Homo sapiens: one gene and its partners. The protein of the gene in region 3 interacts with the protein of the main gene of each other region in a biochemical or structural test. Each region holds a gene or a part of one and is shown on either strand. Other genes may lie near its edges. The genes, in order: GSK3B, PPP1CC, SNCAIP and SIAH2.

Region 1 (5,633 bases), on a different chromosome or scaffold from region 3:
AATTTTTATATTGATTACATCTTGATATATTATTAGTTTAGATACACTAGGTTAAATAAAATATATTACTAGAATTAATTTCACTTGTGTCTATTTTTCAAAGTGGTTCATAGAAAATTAAAATTACATATATAATTCACCTTTTTGGCTTATATAATATTTCTTCTGAATAGCTCTAGTCTAAACAATTACTTAATATTAATATTTTTCAGATTTTTGTACTTGCCTTATGTTTGCATGGTAATCACTTAATAAAATGATACAAAGTAACCTTCCAACATCTATTTCTCAGTATCTAGATACTGCAAGGGTGAGGGTATCTGCCCAAAAAGTATATAGCTTCTTAACTGCCCTTTTGGAACAAATATGGAAAAAAACAATGAACAACTTTTCCAGGTATATTTATCAAACAGTTATCAGATAAGAACTATTCAACTAACAAACAAATCATGGGATTTCCATACAATGAAATGTTATTTAGAGATATGGGATCCAGGAAACTGGAGAGCCAACCCTGAAGAGCAGCGAAAGAAGTCAGAGGATGACAGCTGTACAACGGGGCCTGGAGAACAACTAGATCAGATCCCAGCAGTTGGACGAGGGCTCCAGGAAAAAGGACACTCCAGGAAAAGAAAGGGGCAGGAGGCAGGTAGAAATCCAGAGAATGTCTGATAAATTGGTACATTTGGGGGGAAGAATTGAGATTATAATTATTACAAACAGTATTTAAAAAAAAAGAAAGAAAATGGCAACAATAAAGTCTAAAAAGATTAAAAGCAAAGGAAAAAATGTGACTGTCACTTTGAAACAGCTTAATAGCTCCTTAACACTTTAAACAGAGAGTTACCATATCACCCAGCCATTCCACTACTTAGGTATATACCCCAAAAGATCTGAAAACATATGTCCACACAAAAACTTGCACACAAATGTTCACAGCAGCATATTCATACTAGTCAAAAAGCAGAAACAACCCAAATGTCCATCAACTAATAAACAAATCGCAGGATTTCCATACAATGAAATGTTATTCAGCAATAAAAAGGAATGAAGTACTAATACATGCTATAACATGGGAGAAAGAAAACAGTCATAAATGGCCATGTATTACATAAATCCATTTATATGAAATGTCCAGAACAGGCAAATCTATAAAGACAGAGAGTAAATTAGTGGTTGCCTAGAGCTGTGGGGAAGGGGAACATAGGGAATGGCTGCTAATGGGTATAAGCTTTATCTCTGAAATGATAAAAGTGCTCTAAAATTAGATGGTTGGGATGGTTACACAAGTCTATGAACACCTGAGTAATGAAAAAATGAATGTTACGGTATGTGAATTATATCTCAATAAAGCTATTCTCATAAGGAAATGTGATCACTGTATACTACTTGTTTCTACATAGAATACTGTTCCATGTCTACATACTGAGAATAATTTGAATAATAATTTAAATAAATAATAGTTTTTAAATAGTGGCATAATTATATCAGTATGAAAGCAAAAGGGAGATGGGCATGACAATAAATGATGTCTACCACAATAAGACAAAAAAATTAATTTTAAGAAATAGATAAAAAGCATATAATTAAAAATATGACAAAAACTACTAGAGGAAACAGCTGTCATAGCCAATGTTGCTTCTAAGAAGTAGGACTGGAGGACAGAAGATTACTTTCCATCATAAGCCCTTCTGCACTATTTGATTTCTTTAAATCATATATTCCTTTATAAAAGTAATTTTTATTCAACAACTAAGGGGTGCTTGATTTAGGAGCAGAATGAAACCGTACGCTCTTAAAGAAGTAAAAGGCACAGGCTTCATTGACACTGACGCACTCTGCGCCTCTGATCTCTCAAGAGAACAGGTTTTCTCATCTAAGATGTTAGAAAAATAGAAAGTTAAAAAATTATCCTGTCTTTTTATTATGAAATAAACATCTATTTTAAATGTGCTATTAATTGTTCATTGGTTAAGACTATTAACATTTTACCTCTAATTGCCACGAGAGGAGCTCTGTCATCTTTGCACTTATTCTCCAACTAACTTATATTTAGAGAAATAAGTATTTACTAATTTAATAGGTTAAAAAATAGCAATTTTCTAGAGTTACTGATTTAAATTTGTTTTAATTCTAACACTTCTGCTAAAGCTATTGTTAATTTATGTATGTATACACAAAATGCAAGTCTACTATAGAAATCATTAATCCGTAAAGATTCAGAATACCTATGAAAGGACACATAAGAAATTGTAATGCCAGTGGTCTCCAGGAAAGAGAACTGGTTGTTGCAGAGCAGGAGAGAAGACTTCACTGAATATCTTTAAAATTTTGAACCATGTGAGTAAATTACATTTTTTAAAATTTAAAGCAAAATAGGTAAATAAAACATGCAATTATCTGGCACACCGCACTCAATAATTACTGCCGTTATTACCATATATTATGAGAATATGATATACAGTACGTTGCTCTTCTATATACATGTAATTATATCTTATTATTAAAAGTCTACCAACTCAAAGCTTCCCCCTTTCCTTCATAATTTAAGTAATGTATAGAATGTGAAAACCCTGAATTCCACTAGGGCAAATGTCCCTGCAAATACTATCAGTCTGATGTCAGACATAATTCCAGTACCTCCAACTCTTCAGGTGCTCACACCACATACTCAAAATCTAGCATTAGAAATTCAATTGACTCAACTCAATAACTTCAACACAGGTCATGAAGAAAGTGTTAATCAATTAAAAATATTAACTGATTTTGCTGTACTTTGCGAGGCTGAGGCCAGCAGATTGCCTGAGGTCAGGAGTTCAGGACTAGTCTGGCCAACATGGTGAAACCCCATCTCTACTACAAATACAAAAAAATTAGCGGGGAATGGTGGCATATGCCTGTAATCCCAGCTACTCAGGAGGCTGAGGCAGGGGAATTCCTTGAACCAGGCCTCGAGGTGGCGGTTGCAGTGAGCCAAGATTGTGCCACTGCACCCCAGCCTGGGCGACACAGTGACATTCCGTCTTGAGAAAAAAAAAAAAGTATTAACTAATTTTATAAAATAACAGGAAGCAGACAGTGTTGCATTTAAATAAGATACCTTTCCTTGGAAAAAAACCTAAATCACCCAACCTTTCTAGTTATATTAGCCAATTAAGCCCCTAAGAATTTCTCAGACCTCCAAAAGAAAAACTACTTTGCCACTATCACCCTTTTTCTTCAGCCTAACAATTAAGATACCCAGCTTTTCAATTCTCATAGGCCATAAATGTATCTAGAAAAGTTCCTCTCTACATAGCTATTCATAATTCATAAGAAAGCTTAAATGACTCCATGCAGTGCCTTCTAAGCAGTCCACAAACAAAAGGTACAAGCCAGCCAAAATCCAAGCAGCAATTCCATATATACTAAGGAGGAAAAAAAAAAAAACAGAAATAGTAAGACAACAAATCTTAAATCAGATAAAACTCTGCTGCTGAGTTAATAAATGTAGATGGACAATGGAAGAAAGAGTTGGAAACAATACCCTGGGCTAGCACACTAAAGACTTTAGTACCTTTATCCATACTGCTGAAATCCAACTAGAAGATGGTGAATCAGACAGAGGTGACCCAGTTCTCTTCATCACTTCAGTGATCAACAAATTACAGATATTTTATGTAGTTTATGCAGAAGCCCAGGTTTCCACAAGAGATTTTTCTGCCTCCTGCCTCTTTAAAAGAGAATTAATATTCTCAGATGGGTGCAGTGGCTCATGACTGTAATCCCAGCACTGTGGGAGGCTGAGGCAGGATTGCTTGATTCCAGGAGTTCAAGACCAGCCTGGGCAAGATGGCGAAACCCCCTCTCTATAAAAACTACAAAAACTAGCCAGGCATGTTGGCGCATGCCTATAGTCCCAGTTACTCCAGAGGTTGAGGTTAAAAGATCACCCGAGCCCAGGAGGCAGAGGCTGCAGTGAGCCAAGACTGTGCCACTGCACTCCAGGCTAGGCATAGGCAACACAGCGAGACCCTGTCTCCAAAAAAAAAAAAAAATTTCTCTGGGTGAACATTTTCAACAATTATCAGAATGATTTACCCTGGAACTATATGAACCTACATACCCTACATACACTAAGTAATCCCAATATGCTTGTTTCCCCTAATCATCCATTCTTTTCAGTAGCATAATGCTTAATCAGTACCTATCCATTCCCCTGATCTGTGATTTCAAAAAAACCCAGACAACTCAATGAATTACAACTATATGTTAAATAATAACAAGGAACCGTTAATAAAAGCCTGAAAACTAACCTATGAGCAAAGTTTACACTCCATTTGTCTGCAGATATTAGCTGCTCAGGAGCACTTCTGGTTTACTGTCAATTACCAGCCAATTCCAATAAGGTGAGATTCCAAATAACACAATTCCACATTGATGCATAGCTGTTATTCTTCAGGAAAACTAAATTAGAAACACAATTTAGTTCGGCCACATGTGGTGGTTCACGCCTGTAATCCCAGCACTTTGGGAGGCCGAGGTGGGAAGATCACAAGGTCAGGATTTTGAGACCAGCCTGGCCAACACAGTGAAACTCCGTCTCTACTAAAAATACAAAAAATTAGCCAGGTGTGGTGGCAGGCACCTGTAATCCCAACTACTTGGGAGGCTGAGGCAGGAAAATCGCTTGAACCTGGGTGGCAGAGGTTGCAGTAAGCCCAGATCACGCCATGGCACTCCAGCCCAGGAAACAGTGCGAGACTCCATCTCAAAAAAAAAAAAAGTGTACTTTTTATTACTGAATTGATTTGAAATAAGAATCAAGAAATTAACCTTAGACCATGTTATTAAGGGAACACGTTAAGGACTTGGCTTTGTGCTGTTGTTAACCATGGTACTCTGGAAATAAAAAGTTGGTTTGACAAAACTAGTTTCAAGACAAATACATCATTACTTCAAGTGATCAAACCAAACATGCTAAGAAAACTATTCAATACAAAAAATATAAGATTTAATCACTTATAAAATTGGAACCTGCACATTGTTTGGAAGTTGACCTCTCTTCCCAAAATATAAGCAAAAATGGTAAGGGGGATTATAAACTAAGAACCCAAATCGACTAAATTGTCTTTTGTTTTGTTTTTTTTTTGAGACAGAGTCTCTCTCTGTCGCCCAGGCTGGAGTGCAGTGGCACGATCTCAGCTCACTGCAATCTCCGCCTCATGGGTTCAAACGATTCTCCTGCCTCAGCCTCCTGAGTAGCTGGGACTACAGACGCACACCACCACGCCCCCGCTAATTTTTGTATTTTTAGTAGAGACGGGGTTTCCCCACGTTGGCCAGGATGGTCTTGATCTCCTGACCTCGTGATCCACCCGCCTCGGCCTCCCAAAGTGCTGGGATTACAGGCGTGAGCCACCGTGCCAGCCGAACTAAATTGTGTTTCTAAATCTTATACCACATCAAATGCATTACAGACACAAGTATATTGGAATAATTTACTAAAAATGTCCATTATGTACTGAGTATTAGCTCATTTAAAAAAATAGAAAACTCAATAACGTAAAATGGAATATTCCTTTTTTATATAAATTTAAAGGCAGAAAATCTCAGGGAAAACAAACTTCTTTAACTCTACTCAGTTTTTCCTT
Region 2 (5,489 bases), on a different chromosome or scaffold from region 3:
AGTTCCTGTGTGTTGCCATTGGTCTAAATCTTAGGGCTATTCATTGGTCTTATACCAGGGCTGTTTCCTGAATGCTTATGACTAAGGCAAGTTGTAGATTTTTGGTGGGCTAATCCTCACAATCCCATCGTTAAGTATTCTAGTTATTCCTCTTCTGTGGGTGAGAAGGAAACCAAAGCCTGGGGCAGAGGGTGCCATGTTCTTCCAGTCTGGGCTGATGCATACATCTGATTTGCAGGACTGAAAGTTCTTACTCATCAAAACCACCCCTGCAGATTCAAGCCAGCTGGTACATGAGGTTGAGTTTTGGGTCTTTTCCTCAAGATAGGAAAATGGAGACATAGCACTTCAAACCCACTTTGTTTGTTTAAGAGTCTCGCTCTGTCGCCCAGGCTGGAGTGCAGTGGCGTGATCTCGGCTCACTGCAAGCTCCACCTCCCAGGTTCACGCCATTCTCCTGCCTCAGGCTCCTGAGTAACTGGGACTACATGCGCCCATCACCATGCCCGGCTAATTTTTTCTATTTTTTTTAGTAGAGACAGGGTTTCACCGTGTTAGCCAGGATGGTCTCGATCTCCTGACCTTGTAATCCGCCTGCCTCAGCCTCCCAAAGTGCTGGGATTACAGGTGTGAGCCACCATGCCCGGCCTCAAACCCACTTTCTGGAAGTTTTCTTTAATGTCTTCTATAGACCCAAACATGAGGAAGACATTCCTTCTTTGTTCTGATGCAGATCCTCAGCTTTGTCCCTTCTACTAATTTCAGGTGATACTTGGATTACATGGCCCTTGTCTCCGTGTCTCAATTCACATGGTGTCTGCAAACTGCCAAAATAAACCTAAGATTTTTCATGCAGCACTTCCCTGCAATGGTTCCTTTGTGTTTTTTGGTATCATGATGCCTTAACTTGGTAGCTTGTATCTTCACTTCCCAGCAAACTGAATTCCCTTTCAAACGCTCATCATGGACCCACATTGAGAAATTTGATTGATATTCCTTTCCATCAGTTTAAATCATGTGCCTTCTTCATGGCTCAGCATTCAGTAATTTTTTCCTAGTCCCTGTGTTCCATATCCCATTTATGTGTATGTTACTCGAGAACTCTGGCCTTAAATCAAGGTACTTCAAGAACAAGGGTTATATGTGAGCATCTGTGCTGTCCACTGCAACTAGACATGGGCAGGCCTAGTTTGTGTACCAAATCAGCAATTTCTATGGGAGGGTATTACATAGATGATTGAGCGACTAAGGATGCCTAGCACCTGCCTTTCTGTATGGTTTTGTAATGGTGCTGTCATCTTGTGACCCAGAATACTTGACAAAAACAAAACCAAACCAAAACACTTAATAGAATAGTATCACACTAATAATTACAACTTCCTCTTTCCTAGTTACTTCTTTTGCATATGCTGAAAACATCCATGATGGTGTTCCCTTATGCAGTAAATGCTCAGACATACTTAGCTATCCATGGCTTGGTATCAGGTGCAAAGCAAAGCAAAGGCAAGTGACACTTCAAACTCAGCCAACCGAGATGTGCAAAGACACGAAAGAACTGGGATCGATAAGATAACCAAAAGCAAACATTTAGCAAATACCACCGAGTTGAGCATTCTAAAGACACCACACAACTTCACTCAAGATTCACAATGTGAGACGGCTTCTGCTATGGACGTTTCATAGCTAGGAACACAGTGGCTCAGCATTCAGGTCACTCACTCAAATCAGGTAGGAGGGGCCAAGACTTGGGTTATCACACACATCTCAAGTTCTGCTGTCAAACAGATTTCAAACTGAGTCTCTCCTAATGATCTCAGGTCCTAAAACCAAAGATTAATCTTGTCTTCTACTTGACCAATGTTCCTTAAGAAAAATTTGAGCCAGATACCACACTCCAATAATGATATAATCCTTAGTACTTGATAAATGTTCCTTAAGAAAAACTTGAGCCTGATACCACACTCCAATAATGATATAATCCTAGTAGAGCAGCCCAATTTTACTTTATAGCATTTTGAAATCCTAGTATCAATTCATTAACATTCAGGACATAAAGATGTGCAGAATTTGCCTTTGACACAATTATCATTCACTGTTTTCTTCCTATAGTCAAAGAAGTCTGGGAGAATATTACGTAAAAGTGAAACAGCACAAGTTTGGATATTGTCAATGTGGAGCAGGCAGGTAATGAGGTCCCCCTTCCCTCTTTGATGGGAGCATGGCAGGGTCCAGATGCCTCAGGACCGGGGCTTGTTAGCAGAGGGGAGTCCATGGCCCTGTGCTCTTCTGTGTCCTTCAAAGAGTTCCTCGCTAGGTCCTCTGCCAACGCCCTCAGGGAGACCACTTTGTAACAGGAAAAAAAGCTTTTCAAATGACATGCTCTTCACTCATTTTTAGCGTACCTTTGAGAAATTAAGATACATACTTGTGACAAAATATGACATGATACTGTGTTCCATATAAACCAGGGAAGGGGGAAGAGATCAAAGAACTGTGCATGAAAATATAGGTGGCTGACTCAGAAAACAAAGTGAGCTGCTTTCAAATTCGCCACTAAGTTCAAGTGAACCCAGACAGTAAGAAAACTATGGACACAGATTAATCCCCATCTCCCCAAATGGTAGAGGAGGATCGTTCCACCTCATCACTCTATTACACAAATAGATGTCTCCAGGTTACAACTCAAAGAGTATTAGTATCTGTATTATAATCCATCTTTGGAAAACAGACTATTTGAAAGAAGCAAAACCAAAATGCAACCGTGTGGTTTCCAGAGCAATTTATTCAGGAAAATCTATTCAATATGCCATCAACAGTTCTCCTGTGTGTATTGTGCTGATAAATAGACACTGAGAAGATTTAACAAGTTCATCATTTAATAAGTCTGAATTCATTTTCACCACACGGTATTGTACACGGTCATCTGTTGAAACAGATTTCTTTTTTAACAGATCTTAGTTTAAAAAAGTCATAGGTACTGTGAGTTCTGTATAAACTGGTGGACAGTAAGTTAGTTCCTTTGTTTTAACTTATAAGCCTCAACTTCACCGCAGAATAAAGAATGTAGGCCAAAGAAAGCATAATCGGTCACTCGTATAGAACAGTATTGTTTCTATAATTTGAAGCTTTCTGAATGGACGGGTTCAGGCCTGATGCAACTGTAAAAAGATTACTTAATGAATAGACTATATGGAAATTGTATAAAATGTTATTACCTTTTATCGTTAGTAGCTTAAACAGCACTATATCACTAATTGCTATTCAAAATCAAAAACCTGTTTTTGAATCCCCAAGAAGGCAGCATGTGTATACAACCATACCACCTTGTACTTAGGGGTGTGTCAAAACATAATTCAACAGAAACTTTGGCTTTAGGAAAGAGTCACAAATATTTAAAAGAATGGCTTTGTCATTTTAAGTATACGGTCGGGGAAAAGTGTGCTTTAATTAAATATACATCATACCAGTGATGCTGGCAAGGTTGAAAGTTACTCCTAATGTTGATAGCTATAAAAACTAGTTTGTACATAACAAGACAATGAGAGGAAAAAGCAATCCCTTTGAAACAAAATTCTCAAATAAAAAATGTTCACAGTGGTTTGTATCAACAGTATGCATTTTATGACAAGAACATGTACAGATTCAGAGCACCCTAGGGCTCTCTTTATGTCCTAAAGAAAATGAGCATTTACATGATTATGGGTTGTACTGAATTAAAAAAGATCAATTGTACACTTACTCCTCAGACAGGATAAACTGTCCTGGGGTGTACAGCTTTAACACCATCATTAAAATTGTTTGCAAAAGGAACAGAGAATTAAAAAACAAAACACTTTTCTTTTTGGAGTGAAGAGTCTTTCATTTGCTGTTATAACCAGCAAATGCCATTCACTAAATCAAAAATGGAAGGAAGGGCCCCCACAAACACAGATCTATCTGAGCAAGCTGACCAGTACACATTACAGTCTTAAAAATGAAGGTTATATACTCTATGTTACAAGTCCCGACTAGGCAGTGTCAAAACGACATCTATTTCTTTGCTTGCTTTGTGATCATACCCCTTGGAGGCGTTACAGGTCTCGTGGCATTTGGCTTCTTTTTCTCTGCAGGCTTTAAAATCTGGAGATTCAAAAGACAGTTAATTTAGGAAATATACTCAACCCCAAATCTTAAGAGTCCTTAAATTTCATTCAGATCTTCTGTTCAGATGGTGTTCACAACTGCCCCAACAACTGTAAAAGCCCCCCTAGCATATTAACACAAGCTATGTTGAATGTAAACATTTGGTAATTAACGCTATGACGAACAGATAAAATCTATTATCTGGACAAATTATTTTGCCTCTGAGTATAATGACAATCTTCTGAAGTCTACACCTGGTAGTATCTTTAGCTACTCCTTCTGATACAGGGGAAAAAGTTCTTTACAAAAGTGTTTCTCCAACCTGTAGGGGATCCTTGCACAATCTTTGGAATTTTGAAAGCTGCAAGTTCTCTCTGATAATTGGTAAAAAACTATTTTAATTCATTTAACTGATGAGTGCCACATGATTTGGTGGCTGTATTTATGTTTATGACTAGGCTGGCTTGAAGTTGTACAAGTATCATAATAAGCAAATGAGAAAAAGGCTGAGGCAGATTCTAAATAATGCTTTTGTGCCAACTGAAGGCCAAATGATGTCATGGTACATTAACAGAAGTTTTGTGGAAGTTAGACTAGAGGGCAGAACTAAGTAAACACATAGCACAAGGCACTCAGTACTTTTCACATTCAAGTGGTGATTTAATTTTAGCTGAACATTACATTGTCATTAAGGTTTTAGATTTACAGTAAAAGAGCCATAAGCATTAAGGAGCCAATATGCAATGCAAAAATTTATAATTCAACACTGGGAAAAGGTGCCATAATTAATTTTTTCTTTTACAAGGGATCCACACATTATTCAACTATAATACACACTGGTTAAGGGAAAATAAAAACTTAGCCTACTCAGCATAAGTGAACACTAGGCAAAAAGTAGCAATTATATTTTTCAATCAGCAAAGTGTAAACATATTAAAAGGAAATCATGTTGAAAGCATGCTCTACCTGAAAAGAACACATTAGTGTTTCATCCACACTCATCATGGCACCTGCATTGTCAAACTCTCCGCAATAATTGGGCGCAGAAAACAGAGTGACCAACTGCCTCTTTGCAAAAAATTCATATCCATCTTCAACCACCTTGAAGAGAAAATTTTTTCAATATAAATAGGTGCAAATATTAGGTGAGTAAAACCATGTTTCAGTTTCCCATTGAGCCTGATATCTTGTGTTCCAGAAACACTTTGTATAAATAAGCAATACCTACCCACCAAAATCAACAAGGAGAATCTGTGCTCACACACATGCTCTTAAGTGTACATGTAAAATTCAAAATCAATACCTGATGGGCTCTACATATAAGATCCAAATCATGCTTATGGAGAAATTTTGCAACCACTTCTGCA
Region 3 (3,997 bases):
TCTCTCCTCAGAATTCCTTTTCAATTACTATTTAGCATCTTAGGCACTCAATTATGAAATGTGTTCTTCGATGTTTAGTATCATTTAATTTTCCATGGGTCCTATTTCCTATGAAAATGTTCCTTACGAAAAGACTATGGATTTTAAATTGCTGTATTACAAATAAGCACAAAGTAAATGCACGATAACTATTTAGGAATCAATTAGTACTTTCCCAGGGCCTAGCTATCAGTCTTATCAATTAAAAATTATTTTAACACATATTTTGATCATTAATTTCAAAAACGTAAAAAACCGCTAAGATGCAAACCATAAAATATAAATCTAGTTACCTAATCTATAAAGTGAAAAATCATGCATAGTACATATGATACTAGCAAACAAGTTTTTGATTCATTTTCCATAAATAACTTCCTGCAAGTGAATCTGCATATAAATCAAATGGGCACAAGAAAATAAGTATATAAGGGTAAAAGTTTCACAGAAGCAACTATTTGATTTTCACCAGGATATCATTTTTCTCCCAAGACACATATTTCTCCTATGTGGTTTGCAACTGTAACCTGACAAACTGCCAAAAACAAAGCTTCTATTCTAAGAGTGTTACTGATTCTCTTGTTGCTATTCAATTAGATTTTGCATTTAAAAGAGAAATTCCCTTGTGTTTCCTATAATGATGCACCTGCTCCTTGGGAGATTTCCTCTTTTGACAAGAAATGCCTTAAATCTGGCAAGAAAAACAGCTCCAGGCTTTTTCTGCTAATATCAAAGATCATTTGTTTGTATTAGATGTTTGTGTGGGTTTCCCTTAAGAGCAGTAAAGTACTGCTACAATTTCTTCCAAAACAATAGCACGCACAAAGTTTCTTGGCTTGCATTTCCACTGTACACCTGCACCAGAACAACTGTCTGGAATTAGGAAAGTTGTGACAGAGTAGACAGAGAAATGCATTTGCTTTAGTCACTTCCTTTTGGATATCAACAAATGGTAACCGTCAAATTCATGAATGCAGCATCATTTCAAATCTACTATCTGTAACTTTTCTTCATGAAATGCTTGCTACGGAGAAAATGAAATTTACATTCAAAATTATACCCCTTCTTTTCAAAATCCCATGCTATATTTTATTTCTAACTGAGGTGTCCAAAAGATCCTTAAGAGAAGCACTATCTTTTACTTTCTGATTCCAGACCTGTTAATGCATACATATTTAGTTATGGGTAATCCTCAGTTAATACTCCCTTTCCAGAGAGACTTCCGCGATCAGTACCGAAATATTGCACCTTCCAAAAAGTCTTGAGGACTGCTTAAAGGTGTCTCCTTGTACTCTAACCATGCTGAATGTAATTTAACATTGAGATGCATCAGAAACAGTCAATAGACTTTCTCTCCCAGATGTGTACACATTAGCATACTGCTTTCCTACACCTTGTTCTTTGCCTTTTAAATTTTCAATATGTACAAATGAAATACAGATTTCAACCCATTCCCAATTGGGATGTCTGCTCCATAAAAGAAAAATAGGTTTTTCCCTTCCTACAGATTCAGCAACGAAAGTAGTGCTTGAAAATTACGTGTTTAGAGTGACACCTTGGAGAACTGACATACTGTGCACACATGTAATCCTCATAAACTTCCCCAGACAGCCCTTATTTCATTTTGCAAACTGCACCCTGGCCAGGCTCCACGGCACGTGGTGTGTGGCGAGACTGTCCTGCAGCAGTTCTCCCGTCCTCCGGGCTCTTTGATGGGCACTTGTCAGTAACAGCCAAGAGGAATCCGATCCTGCCTCCAGCAAGTGAAAAGGGGCACCGACAGTAATGCTTCCTTAATTAACTTTCCCAAGGAAAGCAACGTTCCCACAGGAAAAAACAACACGTTTCCCCCCTCCTAGCCGTCCATTGAAAATGAGCAACAATGCTGTTGCCTTTTTGTTTCCTAAGACTTTCTTCGCTGCAAGCAGTAGCGTGTTCCTCAAAGAATGCTAGTATTTCCTGTGGAAACTGTATGGCTGCCAGTAATGGCTCATAATTTTCCCTCTTTTCTCTTCGTAAAAATGAAATAAACAAAATGTGGCCTTTGACAATTAGCTAAAATTGGGTTCACCCCACTTACCACCTGCAGATGAAAGTCATCGCCAAGAGACAAGGCCAAGAGAGAAACATTCCCCTCTGAAATCCACGCGGACCAGCCTGGGACGCAGAACAGCACTAGAGGGAGGCTGGCGGAGCCCGGGCTGGACAGGGCAGTCGGGGAGCTGGTGCTGATGAGCGAGGGGCGGCAGCAACACCAGACGTCCCTTTTCTACAGCTATTATTACCGTTGTTAGTACTGTCGCTATTACTATTACTTCGCCCCTCCTTATCTCAGCTTTTCCGAGCCGCGGAACTGCCCATCCCTGCCTGCGATAAGATCCCGGGTGACAGCAAGAATAAGAACCACATGAGGCGGGCAAATGAAAAGAACAATCCTTTGGAAACCGAGGCGGGGGTTGTTTCCCCCTTTCCCCAGTAAAGCAGCCGCTGCCGCCACCACTGTTACTGTTACTATAGAGACCTCCCCCTCAAACCCTTTCTGCAGAGGCGCCTCTGCTGCCCGGAGCAGCCGAGACTCGCGGCACAAAGGGGTCCCGGGGCTTGGGGAGCACGGGGCGACACCCGCCGGGGTCGCCTGGTGCAAACTTGGAAAGGCTGAGCCGCTGGCTGCCCGCCTCCCGCCTCCCCGCGGCGTCCGCTTGGGACCTGGACTCACCCGGGGCGCCCGGCGCGCCGGCGGCTCAGGAGCGCGAAGGGACTGACTGACCGACCGACGGACCGCAGCGGCAGGAGCAGAACAGCCTCAGCCGAAGTAGGCGGGCGGTGGAGGCGCTGCCGCGGCCCCGCTACGTCACAATGCGGCCCGGCCGCGGGCGCCGCTCCCCGGGCCCCCCAACGGGCGCGCGCGGGCGGGGGCAGCCTGGGCGGCCGCGGCCCGAAGCCGGCGCTGGGGGACAAGGAACGCAGCGCGGGCGCCCGGCCGGGGACGGGGGCGCGGCCACCACTGCCACTGCGGAGGCTGCCGGGGCCGCCGCGCCCTCAGGCTGCGCTGCGCCCCTGCGGCCGCCCCCAGGCCAGCGAGCCCCGCTCGGCCTGACTGACAGCGACCCTCCCCGCGGCGCCCCCGGCTCGGCCCACGCCCCTCCCTCGCCGCTTCCTCACCAGGGATCCCCCGGCCTGCCCGCCGGCTCCTGTCCACGAACCTGCTCTTTCTTTACCTTTCGCTCTTTTTACCTCGACTGCCGTTGCTTTTCCCCAGCTGGGGCTCTCCTCTCCTCCCCGCCTACTTTTTGTCCGCGCTTCCCACTTTTCTCCTCCTGCCCCCCACCCCCTTCCTTGCTTCTTGGCCTCTCCCCCTGGAAATCGCCCCCTCACCGTGATCCAAGCGTTAACCGCTGCCATCTCATTGGTCCCCAGACCATTCCAGGGTTCCAGCATAAACTGGGAGAAGAGACTCGGGAAGGCGGGGAACGGAAGGTGGGCATTGCCCTGGGAAACTCATGTCTGAGAAGCCTTTTGGCAGAGTATTTTGCGTTGGCACGGAGTCTTCACCCCCACCCCTCCCCCCGAAGCTCGCCCACCCCTGAGGACGTGGCCAAGGAGAGGAGGGCAAGGGTGGCTTTGCCTGCCTGGAATGTTCTGTGCTCAAGTGTGGGTGGATGGAGAAGATGTTAGGCTGAAATAAAGACTTTTTAATTCAACGACGTTTCAGTGTACCAATGGCCCTACAGTAATATTATCTTTACTTTTATTGTCTCTTAATTGTTGAGGGATTGGGGGTGGGAGGCTGCTGGATGAGGCGTAAGCAACGCCTGCAGTGGTGACTACTTCTTTCCTTATTTCCGAAATGAAATCAGGGGTTGTGGAAGCATTTATGGTAACCTTGGCTCGCGACTGTCTCGCTGTTGCCCTCTGGAAAGCTTTAAATGGTCTTTGAGAAATCTCTTTCCCAGGCGAGATG
Region 4 (3,898 bases), on a different chromosome or scaffold from region 3:
AATCTTGGGCTGGTATTTTATAGGCCAGACCTGCTGTAACTTTTGGTAAGCCTCTGTTCTGGTTATACTAAGGCTCAACTTTCACTGATAACTATTTACTCTAGTTCCAGGTCATGGTGACCTGTGAAAAATCTTTGGCCAGTTATGTGTGGAATTACCATTAAGCTTAAGTACTGCCATATAGTATTCTAATGCTTCTGCTTTATACAAAAAGTAAACTACAACGAAAGGTGTATTATCAATTTTGTTCTTTAAAATCTTGAGCCCCGGAGTTAATGTATGTGGACTCTGGTCCTTGCCAGTTCACTCTGTGCTTTTATGGGCCAACCTTGCCCATGTCAGGCAGTAGTGAGGACTTCAGGGACAACTTCCAAAGTAAATAGTTTTGTGTTAGGAGAATTCTGGGGGTTAGGAAGAAATTTTTGAAAGTATTTTTGGCTAATCGGCTTGTGCTTCCTGCTTCCAGGTGATCCCCCATTGCAACCTTCCAACCACCCCAATACCCCCCATATTCCATTCCATATGGTGAAGCAAAAGCCCTCAACAGCACTTCTAATCTGATTTCCAAGCACCCACTAACTAGGCGTCATCTCCGTTCTTTCTAATGGATGAACAAACAGGGTCAGGGAAGTATGTGACTGGACCAAAGTCACACAAAGCCAGGACGAGAACCCAGGTCTTCTGTTTCCTGGCTCACGTTCTTTTCACTGGGACCGCTTACTATATTTTAAAATTTTAGGGTAAGAAAGAACCTTGGGATAATCATTTAGTCCAATCCCTTCTCTTAAAGACCCTCAGGTGCAAAAAAGAAACTGACCTGTATAGAGTCAAACATCTAGTCACAAGGCCATCATCTGAGGGTTCCTGATGGCCAGAAAATAATATTCTCTTGGCAAAATGAAGATGAAAAGAAAACAAGCTACAAAATCACCAACAGTTAGGGCCTAACAGAGTTCCAAAGTTCATGTATGGCAAGAGTTAAATGAGAACTTCCAGGCTCAAGGAATGCTTCTACAAGAGAATCAGATCAGAGGCTGCATGCTGGCAGCTGGAATTTGGCCTGGAGACGTGGTGGTTCGCTTTGTCTGCAAGTGGTGGTTATACATGTGAAGTCAGCCAATGCTAGAAAAAAAATCGAGATATTTAACATAAAAAAAAAATCCAGGCTGGGCACGGTGGCTCACACTTGTAATCCCAGCACTTTGGGGGGCCGAGATAGGAGGATTGCTTGAGCTCAGGAGTATCAAGACCAGCCTGGGCAACATAGTGAGATGACATCTCTTAAAGGAAAAAAAAAAGATCCAGATTTCTGGCTTTTCTTGAAAAAAATCTAAAGGTCTGATATGCCTGTACCCACATCCCCAACCCCACCAATCAGCCAGAGGTGAGTAAAGGCTGCCTCTTGGGAGGTGGCACCTGTTCTCTGGCTCTCCACCATCTCCACTGCTCCTCCAGGTCTCCCTGACCCTGAGGCCATGAGTGCATCAAATACTTCTCTCCTCTCCTCTCCTCTCATTACATGGCCCTCCTCCCATTTAGAAAGTTTGTCTCCACTGAACTAGATGAGGCCAAGGGATTTTAAACTTTCAACTGTTTTGTCTAACCTTACTTGGTTTTATGTTATTTTTTATTTTTTTAAGGAACACAGACATTGTCACAATTCAACCACAGAGAAGACTTGTCCAGCTGAGGCTTTCAAATTCAATAATTATTTGGAGATATGCTACTAGAAACTTTCAGAGAGGACAAAGAAAAGGTATCATTACAGTGTAAGAAGGCTGGAGTGGATTAGCATTGCTCACAGTTGTAGAGAGAAATACTTGGCTGATATCAAAATACATCGTTGGATGGTAAAGTAGACTATGTTGTTGATATGAATGTGTCAACCTTCACTTCTCCCCCTAAACCCACACACTGAAGGGGTGAGTTTAAGTCTGGGCACAGGATGTCAAAAGTTCTCAGGCATGGAACAAGCCACAGAATGGATTAAAAAATACCCCAAGCGGAAGAAAGCCATACACTATTAGACATTCCATTTTTTTTTTTTTTTTTTTGACACAGAGTCTTGCTCTGTCACCCAGGCTGGAGTGCAGTGGCACAATCTCAGCTCACTGCAACCTCCACCTCCTGGGTTCAAGCGATTCTCCTGCCGCAGCCTCCTGAGTAGCTGGGATTACAGGTGCCTGCCACCACACCTGGCTATTTTTTTTTTTTTTTTTTTTAATGAGACTGAGTTTCACTCTTGTTGCCCAGGCTGGAATGCAATGACGTGATCTTGGCTCACTGCAACCTCTGCCTCCCGGGTTCAAGCAATTCTCCTGCCTCAGTCTCCTGAGTAGCTGATATTACAGGCATGTGCCACCATGCCCAGCTAACTTTTTTGTATTTTTAGTAGAAACGGGGTTTCTCCATGTTGGTCAGGCTGGTCTCAAACTCCTGACCTCAGGTGATCCACCCACCTCAGCCTCCCAAAGTGCTGGGATTACAGACGTGAGCCACTGCGCCTGGCCCTAATTTTTGTATTTTTAGTAGAGACAGGGTTTCACTATGTTGTCCAGGCTGGTCTCGAACTCCTGACCTCAGGTGATCTGCTCACCTCTGCCTCCCAAAGTGCTGGGATTACAGGCATGAGTCACCACACCCAAAGATCTGAGCTAATAATGCATCCGGTTCCCCATATCAAAGGTGCTGGCAACACTCTAGCCTTTAATTAATTACCCTAAACCTAAGTGGGATAGTTATTTGGCAATACATCCATTTTTTTGCCAACTGAAGCAGTCCAGAGCTGTGATGATACCCCACAAAATACTAGGTTTGTAGGTTTCCCCCACCCTCCCATCTTCCTACCCTACATGCCCTACAAAATTCCTGCCAATGAATTTCATAGTGAGTATGTATGTTGTCATTTTGGGATGGTCCCATAAGAGGCCCATCTGGTGAACTCATCCAACCAGACGGTTTTGTTACTGGTGTCAACCTTGAGTTATGATTCAGAATCTTGAGTATACACTCAGATTCGAAATCCCTACGTAGTAAGGTGTAGGACAAAACATCTGTGCCTTTGAGATGCAGGTGCTTGGACTGGTCCTCTTACTAGCTGTGTGATTTGACAAGTCACTTCACATTTAACCACTCTGTAGGCATGAGTTTCCTCATCTGAAAAAAAAAAAAGGCAAACTAGTAAAAGCTGACCCCTGCAAAGTAACTGGCAGATAGAGGGCATCCAATAACATTCCAGATAGCCTCCCTTCTTTTCATAGAATGCTAGAAGCTACAGGTCCTTAGAAGTCAAGCAGATTCATCTCTCATTTGTATAGATGAGGAAATCAAGGCCCTGGGAGGTGGTCTTTCAGGCAAACAGTGGCAGCTCTTGAGATGTGGGCTCTGGTACTTTATTCAACGTTGGTTTTTTTCACATGAGCCAGCCCATGAGAGATTCTGAGAGCAGGTGGGGACAGTAAAAAGGCAGTCCCATAATTTCTAGGAGCCTCAAACTGTAGGCCAAAGGGCTAGGTAAACAGATCTGCCTTGTTTTAAGTTTGATACAGGCCTTACGGCTCTCTGTTGTTTCTCATCCTCTACAACTAACACATCTTGGTTGGTCGCTGGGCCTATGTATACATTCAAGTTTGGTTTATCCAGACTAACTGGCTGAGCTGCCCTGCCAATAGTTTGGATTATTGATCAACCAAAGGTGAGGGACACACACCCCAGCTTTATACAACTCACACACATGCACACACAAAAGCATCCCCAAGATCACATCCTAAGCTTGGTTCTTGGTCTGCAGGGGAATAATTGGCCCTTTTAAATTTCAGCTTGCAAAGTAATAGCTTTACCCCACTGCATTCTTATAGAATAGAGACTCAGAAAACCACTGACATGTACAGAAAGGCTG

Evidence for each region.
Region 1: of the proteins of SNCAIP (region 3) and GSK3B, one has a biochemical effect on the other in vitro, tested with the Homo sapiens proteins (one study listed by BioGRID).
Region 2: the proteins of SNCAIP (region 3) and PPP1CC interact in far-western blotting, tested with the Homo sapiens proteins (one study listed by BioGRID).
Region 4: of the proteins of SNCAIP (region 3) and SIAH2, one has a biochemical effect on the other in vitro, tested with the Homo sapiens proteins (one study listed by BioGRID).

Annotation. Positions count from the first base shown.
Region 1 is NC_000003.12:120,082,780-120,088,412, forward strand, and holds part of GSK3B (glycogen synthase kinase-3 beta), read right to left. Parts: intron 1,870-5,633; exon of another isoform or gene 1,785-1,869; intron 1-1,784. UniProt on the Homo sapiens protein: Constitutively active protein kinase that acts as a negative regulator in the hormonal control of glucose homeostasis, Wnt signaling and regulation of transcription factors and microtubules, by phosphorylating and inactivating glycogen synthase (GYS1 or GYS2), EIF2B, CTNNB1/beta-catenin, APC, AXIN1, DPYSL2/CRMP2, JUN, NFATC1/NFATC, MAPT/TAU and MACF1.
Region 2 is NC_000012.12:110,717,047-110,722,535, forward strand, and holds the end of PPP1CC (serine/threonine-protein phosphatase PP1-gamma catalytic subunit), read right to left. Parts: coding exon 5,426-5,489; intron 5,224-5,425; coding exon 5,089-5,223; intron 4,120-5,088; coding exon 4,030-4,119; 3' UTR 3,159-4,029; coding exon of another isoform or gene 3,088-3,158; 3' UTR 2,634-3,087; downstream 1-2,633. UniProt on the Homo sapiens protein: Protein phosphatase that associates with over 200 regulatory proteins to form highly specific holoenzymes which dephosphorylate hundreds of biological targets.
Region 3 is NC_000005.10:122,311,040-122,315,036, reverse strand, and holds the start of SNCAIP (synphilin-1), read right to left. Parts: upstream 2,801-3,997; 5' UTR 2,753-2,800; exon of another isoform or gene 2,117-2,752; intron 1-2,116. UniProt on the Homo sapiens protein: Isoform 2 inhibits the ubiquitin ligase activity of SIAH1 and inhibits proteasomal degradation of target proteins. Isoform 2 inhibits autoubiquitination and proteasomal degradation of SIAH1, and thereby increases cellular levels of SIAH.
Region 4 is NC_000003.12:150,756,535-150,760,432, forward strand, and holds part of SIAH2 (E3 ubiquitin-protein ligase SIAH2), read right to left. Parts: intron 1-3,898. UniProt on the Homo sapiens protein: E3 ubiquitin-protein ligase that mediates ubiquitination and subsequent proteasomal degradation of target proteins.